Regions from separate parts of the Homo sapiens genome. Here region 2 is linked to region 1. A link means that fine-mapping ties the variant in region 1 to the expression of a gene that starts in the linked region. Tissue or cell type: whole blood. Region 1 holds a variant in brackets; the other region holds the start of a gene. All regions are shown on one strand. Distances are from middle to middle.

Region 1 (8,263 bases):
TTCCCAGCCCCCTCCTCATGTTCTCTCAGAGCGCAAGCAGGGAGACCGGCCGGAATCACCATCCCTGTTGAAGCTGCAGCTTTCTTTCTCTTTTCACCCTTACGCAGAATTGAATGCATGTGCACAGCATGGGCGTGCGAGGCAACGCCATCCAGGCGGCCTTTGTCCAGTCCATGGAAACTGACACAGGCCTTACTGTCAGCCCTCTTTCTAGCTGCCTCTGATGGGTCTTAAAGAGTAAATTGTTCTCTGACCTTTGACCAGATCTGTCAGCCACAGAAAAACAGCCCCTTCCTTCCTGCTACCCCACAGAGATGTGTCCGCCACAGCCTGCGTCTCACAGATAGTCTTAGACACCTGGCCACACCCCAAATTCCCCGACTTCAAAGGATCTTTTCACACCAAAGATGCAATTCCTGGGGCCAAAGCTCAAATCTTAAACCATAGGGTTCCTAGTTTTTCAAAAAGATCTATTGTCAAATTACAGAACACTCCAAAGAGAAGTGACAGATGACTGTACTAAGGCAATGGGTGTTCGCAGACAATATCTTTCAGGCAGGTTTGACCCCCATCTCCTCAGAAGGGTTTAGGTAGCACCTAGCTCCGTTCCAGGCTCAGTGAGGGACACCATTACAAAACAAATGACCAGCCACCCTATCATCATTAATTTGGTGCTATTCTAGGTCAATAGAATTTAATTAGCAATAAATTTGAGTTTCTTCAATGCTTGAGGCCCAAGGATTGAAAAGTAAACTAATGAATGTGGCTATGAACTTTAATCCCAATTTTGCCATTAGATACCTTGCTGACTCCCAAGCAAGACTTTCTATCTTGATTTTTCTTATATATGAAATCAGGAGAAAAGAGATCTGTACAAGTGCATAAAAAACGAGAGAGGAAAAAAAGAACATTGAGATGCTCGCTGGCAAGGTCACTTAATTTTTCTACCCTGCAATGTGCTCTATTATAAACCTAACAGGGAGAAAGTGAGAACACTGCCTTCATTTGCATAACTACAGGGCATCTCAGGGCTCATTTTTCTAATCAGTTTGGCTCCAGGCACCAGGTAAATGGCACAGCCGAGCATGTCGCAGAAATACTAAATAACCACTTACAAGTGGAGACAGAGGAAATAGTGAGAAGGATTCAGATCTCGAGTCAAGTAGGAGCAGCTGGCAACCTGTCCCAGTGACAAAGTGCTGCTTACAGAAGGCGCTCTGCACTAAGCCAGTCCCTATGTACCATGTCACAACTGAGAAACCAGCCCTCTGAGCTCCAGCTAGCATGCTGGCTGGTAAAATATGGAGCCAGACTGTCCTGCTGGTACCTCAGGAGTGGCTGTGAGGCCCATCAAGGTTAAACATGAGCAGAAAATACATCTCAGGACTCCACAATCACTAAGCCAAAGGGAAAAGTCAAGCTGGGAACTGCATCAGGCAAAGCTGCCTCCCATTTTATTTCTAGATAAGATAGCTGCAAAGACAAAACCTACATACCTCCCTCACAATTGGCCCACAAAGAACTTCCGTGTTGGGCCCCCAGACCTGTACCCTAAAACAGTTCTGTTGAATTTCACCCTGGCAATGTAAATTGACATCTGATCTTCTCAGGTGCGGGACAAAGGACAAAACTCAAAGTCATCCCTCTGCTCGCCTGAGACGAATGCATACCTGATTGCTTCACGTGCCTTGTGTTTATGTTATCTTCTATAAAAATGCAGATTCAGTGAGCCAGACTAAGACACAAGTGACTTTTCCTCTACCCTAAACAAACATGTAAATTGTGTATTCGGTTGATCAAAGACTGATCAACCAAAGGCTGATCAAAGACCCAAAAGAATGCAATCGTTTGTCTCTTATCTACCTACACCTTTAAAAAATTTCTTCCTCTTCCCCCAGTATCCACTCCTTCCCCTTTAAATATTAAGGCCCTCAAAATCATCTTTGAGGAAAGGCATAGACCTGCCTCCCAGGTGTGCATCCTTAACGTCGGCAAAATAAACTTTCTAAATTGTTGACACCTGTCTCAGACACTTTTGGTTTACAGTGGGTTTGGGAAACTGGGAGTGTGAAGCCAGGTGAGAAATAATTATCACATCTCTTTGTTAACAGAAGAAAACAAACTCTGTAAAATACTTAAAGAGGTTTATTCTGAGCCAGTGTAAGTGACCATGGGCCAGGGAACAGTCTCATGAGGTCCTGAGAAAGCTCGCCCTAGGTGGTCCAGTTACTGTTTGGTTTTACACATTTCAGAGAGACAGGAGTTACAAGCAAAGACATAACTCAATACACAGAAGGTATACCTTGGTTCAGCCTAAACAGGTGGGATATCTTGAAGGGGCTTGGAGGGTGGGGGTGCTTACAGGTCTTAGGTAGATTCAAAGATATTTTTATTGCCAGTTGATTGAAAGAGTTAAGTTTTGCCTAAAGACTTGAAGTCAGTAGAAAGAAATGCTTAAGACAAAGGACAGTTGTGGAGGCCAAGGTTCTTGTTATGTAGATGAAGCCTCCAGGTAGAAGCCTTTAGAGAAAATAGATGGTAAATATCTCTTTTCAGACCTTAAATTTGCCAGACTCTCATTTAATCTCTCCTAGATCTTGGAAAGGCCTAGAAAGGGAAGGCTTGATTGCATTAATGGAAATGCTCTACAGATGTAAGTATCTCCCACAAGAGATGGTTTTGCAGGGCCATTTCAAAATATGTCAAAGAAATATACTTCAGGGTAAAATATTTTTATTTTCTTCAGGGTTTGCTACCTGTTATGTGACGCTATACCAGAGGCAGGAATTTGCTACCTTACTGCCACAAAGAGTCTGTTTTGTCAGTCTTATATCTCTATTTCAATGTTAATGCCGATCTGCTGTGCCTAAACTCCAACAGCAAGGGGGGGTATAACAAAGCATGTCTGAACTCCATTCCCATCACGGCTGGGAATTCAGTTTTCAGGCTTCTCTGGGGTCCTCTTGATGAAGAGCGGGCTTGTTCAGTCAGTTGGGGGGCTTAGGATTTTACCTTGTGTTTACACATCAATAGGAAACATCAAGCCACTAAAAATATTAGGAACCTTCTACAAGGTCACTAAGCACTCTGCTAGCTCCATACACCACACTGCAGCTCGTCCTTGAGCAGCAGAACTTCATTGTCAGTCATTTTGGTTCTG[G/C]AGTCCAGCTGTCCGGCTTCCTCATCCCAGCTCGGCTGTGGATGAGCTTTGTGAGCCGACACAGCTAATTCCCTGGCTGTGCCTCTGTGTCCTCCTCTATAAGCTGTGGGTGATGATGGTGACATCACTTCACAGGTTGTAGTGACGGTTAACTGTTGCATGTTAATAGACCCAAAGGCCTTAGAACTGTTTCATAATAAAACACCCAGTACCTAGGAACCAATTTTTGTTTGGCTGTTTTGAAACTTTACTAAGAAATATTTCAGGCATTCTAAAACGTTTAAAGAGTAATGTAACAACATGACACTCCCCAGCGTAAGAAAGAAAACATGGCCATCACAGTCAAAGCCCCCATATACCTTTCCCAATCACAGTCCCTCCTTCTCACCTAGAGGCAACCATCCTCCTGAATTTGATAGCTGTTACCCTATGTTTTCCTTTATACTCTTACTCCATCTAAATGAAACTCTAAACAATGAGAAAGCACTGGAAGTATCTTCTAGCCAGGACCAATATGCATGTCTTTCAGAAGGACTTAGATACAGCAACTAGCCTAGCACAAAGTATTGTTTTGCGACCGCACCCTCATTTGTCACCTTGCTTTCTGTGTCTTTTCACCTCCCTGAGCAGGGAAAGTGCTAATATTTCTAGATGGACCACTTAATGAACTAAGACATTAGTCAGGGCCCTGCTAACCAGTCTGTGCCTGTCAGGGACTCGAGCCACTCTCTGCTGACCCTGCCTGCTCCCCCTCCCTTCCAGACGGAGATGCGGCTGCAGGACCAGCAACTGGCCAGACAGCTCATGCGCCTGCGTGGCGACATCAACAAGCTGAAAATCGAACACACCTGCCGCCTCCACAGGAGGATGCTCAACGATGCCACCTACGAGCTGGAGGAGCGGGATGAGCTGGCCGACCTCTTCTGTGACTCCCCTCTTGCCTCCTCCTTCAGCCTCTCCACACCACTCAAGCTTATTGGCGTGACCAAGATGAACATCAACTCTCGGAGGTTCTCTCTCTGCTGAGGAGCCCTCAGACTGGGCGGAGGGGCTGGAGCGGAGGGCTTGGGCTGGAGGGGTGTCAGAGGAAGCTGAGGCCAAGTTACTCCAGTGGGTCTCCCGGAGGCAGGGGTCCCTGGGACTGGCGACTCAAGGGCCCCAGGACCTATTCAGTGGTGCTCTCCCACCCAGGGGCCCTGGGTGTGGATGCCAGTGTCTCTGTGACTGGCTCTTGCTTACTACCCAAAGAGCTCTGCAGAAGGGCCGCTCCAACCAAGATGTTAAAGGAGACCTGGGTTCCCACCATAATCCATCCCTCCACGGTCACGTTCCTGTTTCCTGGAATCACTGGTGCTATGAACTGGGATTCCCAAAGGGAGGCCCCCCAACAAAGCTGTCATTTTTGCAGAAGGCTGTCCCGCAAGGGCCTTGGGGGAAATTAGGCATGTCAGATGTGCCTGTCTCACGTGCTGTTGCTGTCCTCTAAGTATTGTCTCAAATTCACCCTAAGTACATGACTCAGCAACATTGACAGGGAGCTACTAGGAAGGGAAAATCGAAAGGCATGACAAATGGGCACTTGGGGACGCAGCCCCAGTGGCTGGCAGCCAGTGTCTCTGGTGAGCCTGACACTATAAGGCTGTGTAAATTGTAAATTCTGGCGTGTGCTGGGACATGTGATGGGGGCACTAGCGTAGCTTGGGTGCAACAAGCACAGATGTCCCCATTGTCTCCCCTGGCCACATGCATCTCCAAAGAGCCTCTTCACTGCCACCCACACCCCAGGGTGACAGCCTGGGAGACCACTGGTGACTGAACCAGGCAGGTCCTGAAAGCATTTTCCATAACTGAATTCTCCTGCAGGGGCGTGACCGGGGCCTCCTGGTGGATTCTGGTGGTGTCACCTTACTGCCCTCTCTGGAAAGACAATCTAGGGAGCCCAGAGGCCCATCCTGAGCCTCCTCTGAGATTTTGTGCCTGACCTAAACAACTAGTTTTAATAAGACTGTTACTGATGTGTTGTTCACTTGTTAGTAACTGATTTTTGTCCAAATGCGGAAGCCACTTGTGTAGGTCAACTACAGTGCGTAGGATTTGATTTTAAGAGTTTCTCCCTCCCAACAGGCTTGAGGATCAGCAAGTTAAGACCCCAGCAGGTTAGGGAGGTCAGTCTGGGGTCATACGGCATGGCAGGGGTCCCTCGGCCAGACCCGTAGAATCCTGAGATAAGGAGTGTTTCTGACCTTTGGTGTCATCTAGTCGAGTCCTCTCATTAGTAAAGGAGCAAAGTGAAACCTGGGGGAGGAGAAGGACTTCCCTCAGGTTGCACAGCTGTTTAGGCTATAGAATATTGATGTGTGAAACCATTATTGATAATGCCTAGTAGATCACATGTCAATGAACTTGAACCCCAAAGATGGTCGTGATGCTTTGCCAAACCCGCACACTGCCAACCCCTCTACTCTCCACCTCAGCCCCCACCCACATCTCCCAGAGTATTGCAATTCAGAACATTTGGGTCAAGGTGGAGCAAGGCACTGACAGTGGCCCCACAGGGCATGTGTCACTAATCACTGTCCCATGGTCTACGCACGGCATCTGGCTGCTCTGTCTACTGTGACTTCTTCCTGTGTAATCTCAGTGGGGCCCGTGTCCACCCACACATCGTGACCCACATAGGGGAGAGGTTGCTTTTCTTTTGTGGGCTGAGAGTAGGACAATGCAAATGAATGATCTCTAGTAGACAGAAAAGAACTTGGTCTCTTTTTTAAAATTTCAAAGAGCCAGAAGTTCTATGCCTCCTTCAAAGTAGGCAGAACAACGCAGCCAAGATCTACTGTCTGCCATGCTCTGTGCAATGAAGTCTGCAGGCCTGAGGACCATGTACTGCTGTCCTTCCTCAGAGCTCTGCACAAACACTGCCAAGTCCTGAAGACGCATTCCTTTCCTGCCAACCTCTTTCCAGATAAGCCCTTGAGGTCTCGGGCTGACCTACACACACACACACACACACACACACACACACCCCCACACACACACACACGACAGAGAACATGCCATAAACATCCTTGAACCCATGCAGGAAAGCCCATCCCATATTCTGAAAAAATGCCAAATTAGGTTTTTCTTTCTTTTTGGAAATCAGTCATTACAGTAACCGAAACCATTGGGTTCAGCGAAAATGGAAAGATTTAGCTGAATGTAGTCAGTCCAATTAAGTTGGATGCAACTGAGTGATTTAGTTGCTTGGGTAACCCAGTGCTTGCTTGCTTTCTTCATTCTCTGGGTGGAAACTAAGATCAAGACACATGTTTGGGGATAAGTTAAATGTCTGAGCTATTTTGCTCGGTTTATCCTAAGAGAACTTTATTATGGGATGAGGAGGTGACCCAAGATGAGAAGTGGAGGGGGACAGCGATGTTTTCTAAACATCGTCCAGTGTTGACTGGCTTCCTTACTTTGCACAGTGAACACAACTAACCACATTAATTCAGCTTTGTGAAGTCCCTGCTCTCTGTGGGTCTATGAGTCAGCAGCAACATTGGCCTAACCTCCGTCCCAGCCTCCTGGCTCACCACATGTGTACAGTGCTGTTTGCAGTTGTACTCATTATCCATCCATCTCTCTGCCATCCCCAAGCATCGCTGGGTGTAAAACGCAAACTCTCCACCGACACTGCCATGCGTGGTCATGTCTTGATGCCTTCAGGGGCTCAGTAGCTATCAAAGAGGCCTGGAGGGCCTGGGCAGGCTTGACGATGCCTGACCGAGTTCAAGACCCACACCCTGTAGCAATACCAAGTGCTATTACATAATCAATGGACGATTTATACTTTTATTTTTTATGATTATTTGTTTCTATATTGCTGTTAGAAAAAGTGAAATAAAAATACTTCAAAAGAAGATATCCATATAAAAATAAAAGGAGAGAAAAATGCTTGTCCTTTTAGCTTGTCCCTGTTATAGCACACACAGGATGGATGGATGGATGGATGGATGGATGGATGGATGGACGGATGGACAGATGGATGGATGAACAACAGATGGAAGGAAGGAGGGAAGGAAGATTTTTGCAACCAGATGGAGGCAGGGGAGGGAGAAAAAGATTCACCCAAATCACTGTTCTTCCTTGTATCTTCCCCTTGAGGAAGCTGCTTGGTGGTTGTTACTATCCGGAGTTCCACAGGTAAGCTGAGGTAGAATTAAAAAATGCAGGCTTGATTCCTGAGTTTGACAGAAGCCAGAGCCAAAGTAAACCCACTCTCCTCCAGTGGCCTTTTCCAAAGGTGATCATATTATGCTCTGAGATCTTATGCCTGAAATTTTTTCAGCCACTTAAAGCACCTCTTAAACCTCAAAATCGAGCATGCATGAAAGTCACCTGGGCTGCTGTTACAAATGCATATTCCCAGGAGAAGTACTGGGTTCCAGCCCCAGGGATTCTGGCTGTGTCGCTCCGGGCTTCACAGACGCCCCAGGTGATGGACACAGGTGGTCTAAAGACACTTTGAGAAACCTTTGGAAGACAAAGCAGGTGAGGGAAGGCCCTGTTTTTCACTGATCCCATCTCTGTGTTCTCAGCAAAGACCTAAGTCAGAGGGTCAAAGTGGGTGTCACTAATCCCATTTTGTGGAAGGAACCGCTGAACAACAATTGCAGATCTCTGTCCATCCCTTGAGATGATATCCCCTGTCTACACCAAGAGGAGTGCCTGTGATGTCTCTTTCCACAAAGAGCACACAGTATAAGCTGCTTGGGGGAGAGTGGGCGTGAGGTGGGTAGGGAGCAGGTTACTGGGGAATCTGCCATTGCCCTGACCATGTGGTTCAAAGGGCATTCAAGAAGCCAGGGCCTTTCCACCCTGCCGGTGGGACCACACATGCACTTTTGCAGCCCACAGGGAAATGAATGTGACCTCCAAACAAATCCAACCATTCTAAGTGCCACAGAGAAGATAAAATGTGAGACGGCGCCAGGTGTGGAGGGGGCTGCTTTTCCCAAGTGGTCAAAGCTTCCTGGAGAAGAGCTCTTCCAGTGGCAGTGGCAATTGTGCAGAGGTCAGGGAAAAGAGTGCTCTAGGAAGGAAAAGATAATCCCAGACCCC
Region 2 (8,000 bases), 42 kb before region 1:
ATTACTTCCAATCCAAGTCTACAATTCTGTTTTTCTATCACTCACAATATTGCTTATTTACTTAGCGTATTTGTCGGTCATCGTCTGCCTGCTTTCCTCTGCTAGATTATCAGTTCTCAAGGGCGAGGTCCTTCATCTAACTTGTTCACTAACATTTCCCAAGAGCCTAGAACAATGTCTGGTATTTAGTGGTACTAATACGTATTTATTGAACAGATGAATAAACGAATTGGGAGAAATTCTGAAAGAATATTTTAAGTTTAAATCTTTTATTTATTTATTTATTTATTTATTTATTTATTTATTTATTTTTGAGACAGGGTCTTGCTCTGTTGCCCAGGCTGGAGTGCGGTGGTGCAATCATGGCTGACTGCAACCTTCAACTCCTGGGTTCCAGCAGTCCCACCTCAGCCTCCCAAGTAGCTGGGACTTCAGGTGTGTACCACCATGCCCAGCTGAGTTTTCTTTCTTCTTCTTCATTTTTTTTTTGTAGAAGTGGGGTCTCACCATGTTGCCCAGGCTGGTCTCCAATTCCTGGGCTCAAGCAATCCCCCTGCCTCGGCCTCCCAAATTGCTGGGATTACAGGTGTGAGCTACCATGCCTGGTTGGGCATTTTTCTTGACTCATCTATTTCACAGCTTCCTGTAGGATTATAAGAGGCAATGTCTCATGCATCATGCACCAACGGAAAGAAAACTTCTCTGTAAGGAATCAAAGGGAAGAGAGAACCTCTAGGTGGCCTTGCCTTCTCTGGCCCACCCAGATCCTCCCACCATCACTGGGTTTCAGTGTGCCTGACACAAAAGGAAGTGCCATCAGAAACACCAACACAGTGCCATCTTCCCTTTTGAGTAGTGTTTCTTGATGTTTCTCATTACAAAACGATTCATTGTAGAAAACGAATGCAGGCTTACAGAAGACATTTTAAATCCTCCATTATCCTGCAGCCCAGAGATAACGACAGCTAATATTTGCATACACTCTTCCAATCTTTTTTCCATGCATACATATGAATTAGATATTGGAATGAGAAGTTTCATAATGTACACAGGATTTGGTGTCCCAGTCTTATTTACTTAGCGTTAAATCGTTAGTATTTTTCTATATGATCAAATAGCTTTTGAGAATATTATTTCTATGGCTACATACCATTCTGTGCTAACTCATTTATTTGACCACTCCATATGATTTCACTTTGGAGTTGAGGCTACTCCAACCAAGACTGCTCTTCCTCCTCCCCTTCCTCTTTCCTCTGGCCCACTCTCCTCCTGGTCCCCATCACTGATTACCCTCCTGCCCGCAGACAAATGCCAGGCAGAATGGGAGCCACAGGGCAAGACACCACCCTTGCCTTGGACAGGCTGCCTGTCCATTTGAGGCATGCCACAATTCCCCCATGAGAAAGCATCTGCACTCCCAGAAATAGAAGCCATAGGTCAAACAGGGAGCCAGGAGGTAGAGGTGGGACAAAGCATTTCCAGATGGGGCTGAATGGCCCATCCAAAAAGATCTTGGAGCATTCACCACGTGCCAGGGCCATGGGCACACCAGTGAGCAATGCAGCCAACTAGGGCTCAGCACCGGGGCTGTGGTCAGAAACAGCCAGCACCCAGAAGGATGCTTTATCCCCAAGTCCAGATTGAGGCTCCTGCTTGCAAACATGGTTCATGCCCTTCCGGAGCCTACTGCCTCAGAGGGAGACACATACTAATCAAATAACCTCACAGGTAAACTTGGAATTATAACTGGTCCATGAAGGACATAAGGCAGGGGGCTGCCAGCACCTGTAACCTGGGGTTCCCTTAGGAGGCAGAGCTGCAGCAGCCTGTCGGGAGGAGCAGGTGCACAATGGGACTGGAAGAGGGTCTGTTGTCTGGGGAGCAGGGTCTGTGCAAGACAAGGCCCTAGAGACGGACAGAGGCCAGCCAGGCCCCTGCAGCCAAGCTAGCTGTTAATCCTCAGAGGACTGGGGGCGTTGAAGGCCTTTAAGCAGAAGCAGCTGAGACTGGATTTCCATTCTTAAGAGTTTCCCCTGTTTGTGGAGGAGTAACTGGCTTGGGAGGCGCTGAGAGAGGGTAAAGGGAGATCAGTATGGAGACTGCGTGCACGCTTGGACCCGGGTGGCAGGTCCCAGAACTGGGTAGGGCAAGCTGCTGGTGGCTTGGGTAGGGACAGTGGCAGCGGGCAGGAAGAAGGAAGGAGTGATGTTTAGGAGCTGGAATCAGAAGATCTGGATCAAGGCTGTGACTCTCCAAAAGATGCTTGTTAATACACCCGCTAGCTTAGGACCGTTCCCTCATTAGCATGACTAGGTCTGTACTGGCAAGATGTCTCCTTAGACGACGTCCCTCAGAGGACCTTCCAGTGAAGGTCAGAAAGGAAGGGAGTAGGTCAGGGCTGGATGCGGAGTTGCAGTGAAGGACGCGGGCACCAGAGGGCAGCACGAGTGTCTCGGGCCCCTGCAGGGGCTAAGACCCCACAGAAGGCCCGACCAGCCGCGCACCTGCCTGGAGCCTGCGCCAGTCACTTTGCAGCCCCACCACTCAGCTTCGCGTCTGGCCATGTAGGCGGCGCCTGCGCGCACGCCCAGGGCTATCGTGAGAATGGCAGACTGGAGCCCTTTGAAAGACGCTTCCAGCCCCGGGCATCTAGGAAAGGTGCTTGATGAGGTCTGGGGTAAGAGACCCCCATCCAGTAACCAGCCTTGGGGCCTCCAGTGTCTGGCCTGGGCCCCTCGTCAGAAGCTGGGACTGGTCCTGAAGACCTGCGGTCCGGGCAGCTCGGGCTGCTGTCCTGCCTGTGCCTTAGGGTTTGCAGCTCTGGGCTCTGATGCAGCAGGGACTGGGTCTTAGAATCTAACGACAGCCAGAGGTGGCCGATGCCGCGCCCCTGGCGGGACAGACACCCTGTGGTTAGTGGGGCAAACGCTCGCGTCTTTGCACCTCAGTTTCCTCATCTGGCAGCCAGAGATGCCTACACTTGCCCTGCTGGGTCGTTGGGGGGCGTGGCCCACGGTAGGCGCTCGCGGGCAGTCGTGGCCGCGGGTCCTATGAACTCCTGCCGTTTGGGGGTGGGTGAGGCCCTGGGCGTGGGGTCCCCCTGCGCCCTCCATGCGGACAAACTTCTGACAGTGGCGCAGTCACGTTGCCACAATTGGGGGAAACTGCCTTGGTTTCGGGTTTAATGAGAAAATGGATGTTTGGGTTTGGTTTCATCTGGGGTTTGGCGAAGGCATGTAGTTCCTCTCCACTCGCGGGGGCTGCCCGGGCCGGTGAACCGACAGGGCGCTAGGACCCGGGGCGCGCTCGGACCCGGGGCGAGAACGCGAGGCCGGGATCGCGGTGAAAGGCTCGCGGCGGAGAGCTCGGCCGTCGCCAGGCAACCGCCCTGACGCAACGCAGGGGGAAAAAAAAAGTCCTTTCCGAAAGGAGCAGCGCCGAGAATTCACCGGAGCTCGGGGAGGCGAGGCGGGAGCCCTGAGCTGAGGCCGGGCAGCGCGGACCCGCGCAGGAGGAGGCGGCGGGGACACCGGCGAGTCCCCAGCAGGGCCCCTGGGCTCCCGGAAGGTGGGTTCGCGCCGGCGGCGGGGACTTTCCCAGGGACTGGGAGGTGTGGCCGCGGCGGGCGGCGCAGTCTGGGCAGGGGCTGAGGCGTCGCAGGTCCCCAGCGCGAGCACTGGCCCGGAGCAGCCCGATCCCAAAGCGCCCTGGAGGGGACGCGCTCCTACCGCCCCCCCGGGAGAGGCCGCTCATGCGCTCCCGCGGGTTCGCTGCCCTCCCAGAGGAGCCGGGCAGCCAGGGCTGGACTTCATCTCCTAGCTCCCTGCTGGCCGTGTCCGGGCTCGGATTCTGGGTGGAGGTTCGGGGTCTGCCGTCTGAGAGGGAGGGCCGCACTCAGCCTCTCCGGGTCCACTCCCAGGCGGCTGGTGACCTCCAAGCCCAGCCTGGCTCCTGTGTATAGGTTCAGTGAGATGGAAGTTTCTGTCCCCACGGATGCGGTCCCTAACTAATGGGAGGTGGCCCAGGGCACCTGGACCCAAGGGTGCTCTAAGGACCCAAGCCAGTGTGACCTGAGGGAACGGCACAGCCGCAGGGGCCCCCGGGAATGAGCAGGTCAGCCGTGAAGGTGGGCACCCTGAGTCACCGAGACACCGGAGCACAGACGGCGGGGGGGAGGGTGTCTTCTTCAGCCAAGTTAGGTTGGATGTATAGGTTTTCTGCACACCCGTTACTGCCTGGTTTTTATTCCCGGCGGGGCTTGGAGGGAATTCTGAGGACTGGGACCTCCTGGGAAGATCTGGAAGGAGGGTTGACTCTAGGTTGGGGGCTGGCCACTGCCGTATGCCTGCAAGCAGGTTCTCCCAAGTCAAGTTTCCACAAACTCCCCGTCATTGCTGGAGAATCCCAGAAGATGAGATCACGTCCTATCCACAGGGTTTTCACCAAGGGGCACATGCTCCAAAGCAGCTTCCCACTGACACAGTAGACACAGTCCTGCCCCTCACTAAGCTCGGGATGGAGCGTGGAGAGCGTGGACAAAGTCTTGGGAAAGCAGAGGTGCTGTGGCGCCTGTTGCCTGAGGGCGTTGGCAGGATAGGAACTTCTGCAGCGTGTTTTTAAGGAGCTTGGAAAGCAGCCATGGGCTGTGCTTGGAATGGATAAAGATGACAGCTCTTCTTTCTTGAGTGCATTTATGGACCATGCACTACTTAGAAACCCTTCGCATCCCTTGGTCACTCCATCCTCCCCATCAGTCTTCAAGGAGACTCTATTATCCGTTTTGCCAATGGGACTCTAAGAAATTGAGTGACCTGGTGTGGCTCCCACACCTGGTGAGAGAGCAGAGAGTCAGCCTCACGTGCCTGACTCCCGGGACAGTGCTCTCAGACGAAGGCTGCTTTGGGAAATCTGAGGCATCTAAGGCCCAGAGAGGGGCAGAAACCACTCACGCCCAGATGAAATGAGAACTGTGTCGTGGGGCTCATCTTATGACCTGAGAAGGTCCCCTGCCTGCTTGAGGAACCCTGTGGAGCCAGGAAAGCCATTTCTTCTATTAGGAGCTTGCAAGGCTGTGTTGTTGGGCCTGGCCGGCCTCAATTCTTCCCACCTGAAGCAGAAGAAAGGGTTGCTCCCCCACACCCTGTTCTCCTCCTTGCCTGCCCAGAGCCCCCAGACTCCCTGCGCACTTGCTCCTGTTCTTCTGGTCCTCGCAATTACATGCATGGATTTCTACTAAATTGCCAGTCCCCGCCTTCCTGTCTACTAGCTTGGCCCCCCTCCAGGAGGAACTCTGGCAGGGAAATAAATTAAGGCCATGCCTAACTATTTGCTGAGAGAGAGCCACAGAGCCCCAGGCCAATGAGGAAGAAACTACTTGCTAGGCTTCTCACACCCTGGCTGCTGTGTTCTCTAGGCAAATCTTGCTCACAGAAAGCCCCGTTGGCCCTACAGGAGCCCCGGTATTCCCAGAACCCTTTGGGAGCTGTGCTTTCCCAAGGGACTTGAGCTGCTTGCAAAGGCGGAAAATGAGTAACTGAGCACTTTGCTCCTGGTTTCCAGACCAGGGGTGGGAGAGCACGCACGTGCCACTAACTGGAAATCCCTTAGGATTAGCCTGGCTGGCTGTTACTGTGCAAATGCACCCCGAGACTTGGATTGCCATGTGGAGACAGGAAGGAAAAGCACAGACTGAAACAGACCTTGAGGGGCTGAGGATGGGCTACATGGTGGGCAGGGGGAGGTGGGGAGCAGGAAGGATGGGACAGGGTGGGAAAAGAGTTTAGGAGGGGCGGCAGGTGAGCCTCACTGGCTCTGCAATCACCTGTAGAGTCTGAGCTGCCACCGAGGGCCGTGTTGCCAGGATGAGTCAGGTAGGCCGCAGGTCTCAGCTTTTCCCTGGTTAGGACCGTTGCCCTGTCCATTAAAGGCCAACTCTTCCCCACCCTGACCCCTACCACTTCTCTCTGGAGAAGTGTTGGAGAGGAAGGACAAGCATGGAGAAAGAAGGTGAGCAGAGCAGTTCAAGGGGGGCTGCTCCCACCTCACCCCCTTTCCTTCTGCACACTGCCTGCCTGCTCATCTCTGCCAGGCAGCATCAAATCTCATCCATCAGCCACTCTCGAGAGGACTTTGCTGAGCAGTAGCCCAGTCTCCCTGTGGGCACAGCCGTCAAGGGGGCCTCTCTTCTCTAGCAGCAGCTGTCTAGCGTCAGGCTCCTCTCCATGCCAGGGCCCTGCCACGTGGCCTTAGCAAGCACATAGTAGCTCCCCCCAAGTTGTCATCTATAGTGGGGGGTGGCTTTGCTCCCCCACCACAAAGCTCTCTTCACTGAGGAATTTCCAGAAGGTCCCTCGGGTGCCCATAAGTGTGATCCTCCTCCCCAGCGGCCTTTGCAGAAACCTGAAGAGGATGAGGGTTCACCTTCTCCCACTGGGGGCATGGACCAAGCCCCCATTTCTTCAGTGTGGCCGGAAGTTCCCTCCAGGGCATCCTGATCCAAAGGTGGAAGCTGGCAGTAGATGCCCAAGGGCTCCCTCGCAGGGCTTGTCCCTTGGGCATCCCTAGAGGGACAGGCCCAGGTCAGACCCCATTTTCCAGGTCCAGTGGCAGGTATGGAAAGAGCCTAGGCAGTGACTTGTGCACTGGCTACAGTTCCAGGCCTTCTCGAAGGCTGGGCAGTGTTTCCTCATTCCAGGAAGCCAGCGGAGCCTCTGCGAGCTGGCTGGGCACAGCAGCCCCTAGGTCAGCAGGCTCATGCTTAGGGTGGTGGCCACCCAGGAAGGTTCTGGATGAGGGTCTTTGCCTTAGGGACCTGGCCCCCACTGTCCACCATCAAGTTGAAAGTGACACTACCTCCCTAGTCTTGTGATCAGCTCCACGCACTTCGCCCTGGAAGTCCCATGCCAGGCGTGAACTGACCTAAGTCCCTCCAGTCACAAAGGCACTTCCCAAATTTGGTTGTGTGGCTGCTGCTATTTTGTTTATTTGTTTGATAGCAGCCACTGAAAACTTGGAGGAAGGTGAAGCCAGCCTCATTATCAAGTTTGAATGAAAGCAGCCTCAGAGCAAATTCTGCCAGACGTACACATTTTTGGACAAATATTTACCTGAAACAAGTCCAGCGGAGTCCATACAGCCTGTCCTGTGGGCTCGGTGAAGCCCAGCAATCTGCTCTCTGCTGCCCTGACCACACCTCCCTGGAGCTCTCATGGATTCTTTTACCTGCTCTTTCCTGAGTCAAGAGTGTCTCTGAATTCATTTAGCCAACCCACACATCTTGAATACCTCTGTCTTTACCAATGAGAACGCATTTCTAATATTTACTTTGCTAATCATCAAATGCCCAATGCTGACCAGAGATAAAGACGCTGAAGTGCCTGTCCCTGCTGCCTCTGGAGCAGATGCTTTCTGCTTCGAGGCAGTGGCTGCGAGTGGGGTAGGGGTGGGCGTTGCTGATTTGAATACATCTAGGTTGTAGCTGGCATAATGAAACCACACAGAACAGCCCACCATCTCTGCAAAGGAGTTTAGGATCCAAATGCACCACCCTACCAAGGAAGCAGAAGGTGAAGGCCGTGCCCTCAGGGAGCGTGCAGTCTGGCGAGGTTGCTGATGCAGTAGAGTCCTGAGCTCACAGTAAAATGCTGTTCTGCACGCTTCAGTTAACTTTCGCAGTGCAGGAGCCATTTCCCAATTCGATGGACCAAGGAGAGTGACAGCCAAGCACAGTCAAGAGCAGGAGGTGACAGTCGTATTAGAGGTGTAACTAAAAATTCACGTAAACTTGATCTCATTTGGTCCTTCCAAGACTGTGAGGTACGATCCATTACAATCCTGTTTCATGGATGTGGAACCTAGGCCTAGGAGGGTTGAATCTGTTGATCAAGGTCATAGAACTAGTAAGTGGCAGGCTGGCTGTCAACCAACCCACGTCCCCCGACACCCGGCTCTGCCCTGTTCTAACTTGCTCCATCCCTTTCTCCTGCTCCTGATTCCTTTCC

Evidence for each region. PIP is the estimated chance that this variant, and not a neighbour inherited with it, causes the effect.
Region 2: FAM167A starts here. The variant in region 1 is fine-mapped to the expression of FAM167A in whole blood (TOPMed, PIP 0.96).

Annotation. Positions count from the first base shown.
Region 1 is chr8:11,420,296-11,428,558 of GRCh38, reverse strand. It overlaps FAM167A (family with sequence similarity 167 member A), which reads left to right. Exons shown (of 3, transcript NM_053279.3): 3 at 3,923-7,083. The coding sequence ends at 4,186. All of the region lies in intron 3 of FAM167A-AS1 (FAM167A antisense RNA 1), which reads right to left. Among named protein-coding and RNA genes, the nearest start is that of FAM167A, 42 kb to the left of the region's middle. RefSeq lists a silencer at 2,867-3,058 and enhancers at 2,948-3,490, 3,491-4,034. The variant G/C (reference allele first, on the strand shown) is at 3,161.
Region 2 is chr8:11,462,193-11,470,192 of GRCh38, reverse strand. FAM167A (family with sequence similarity 167 member A) reads left to right here and starts at 3,440. Exons shown (of 3, transcript NM_053279.3): 1 at 3,440-3,567. RefSeq lists an enhancer at 1,508-2,277 and a silencer at 3,523-3,732.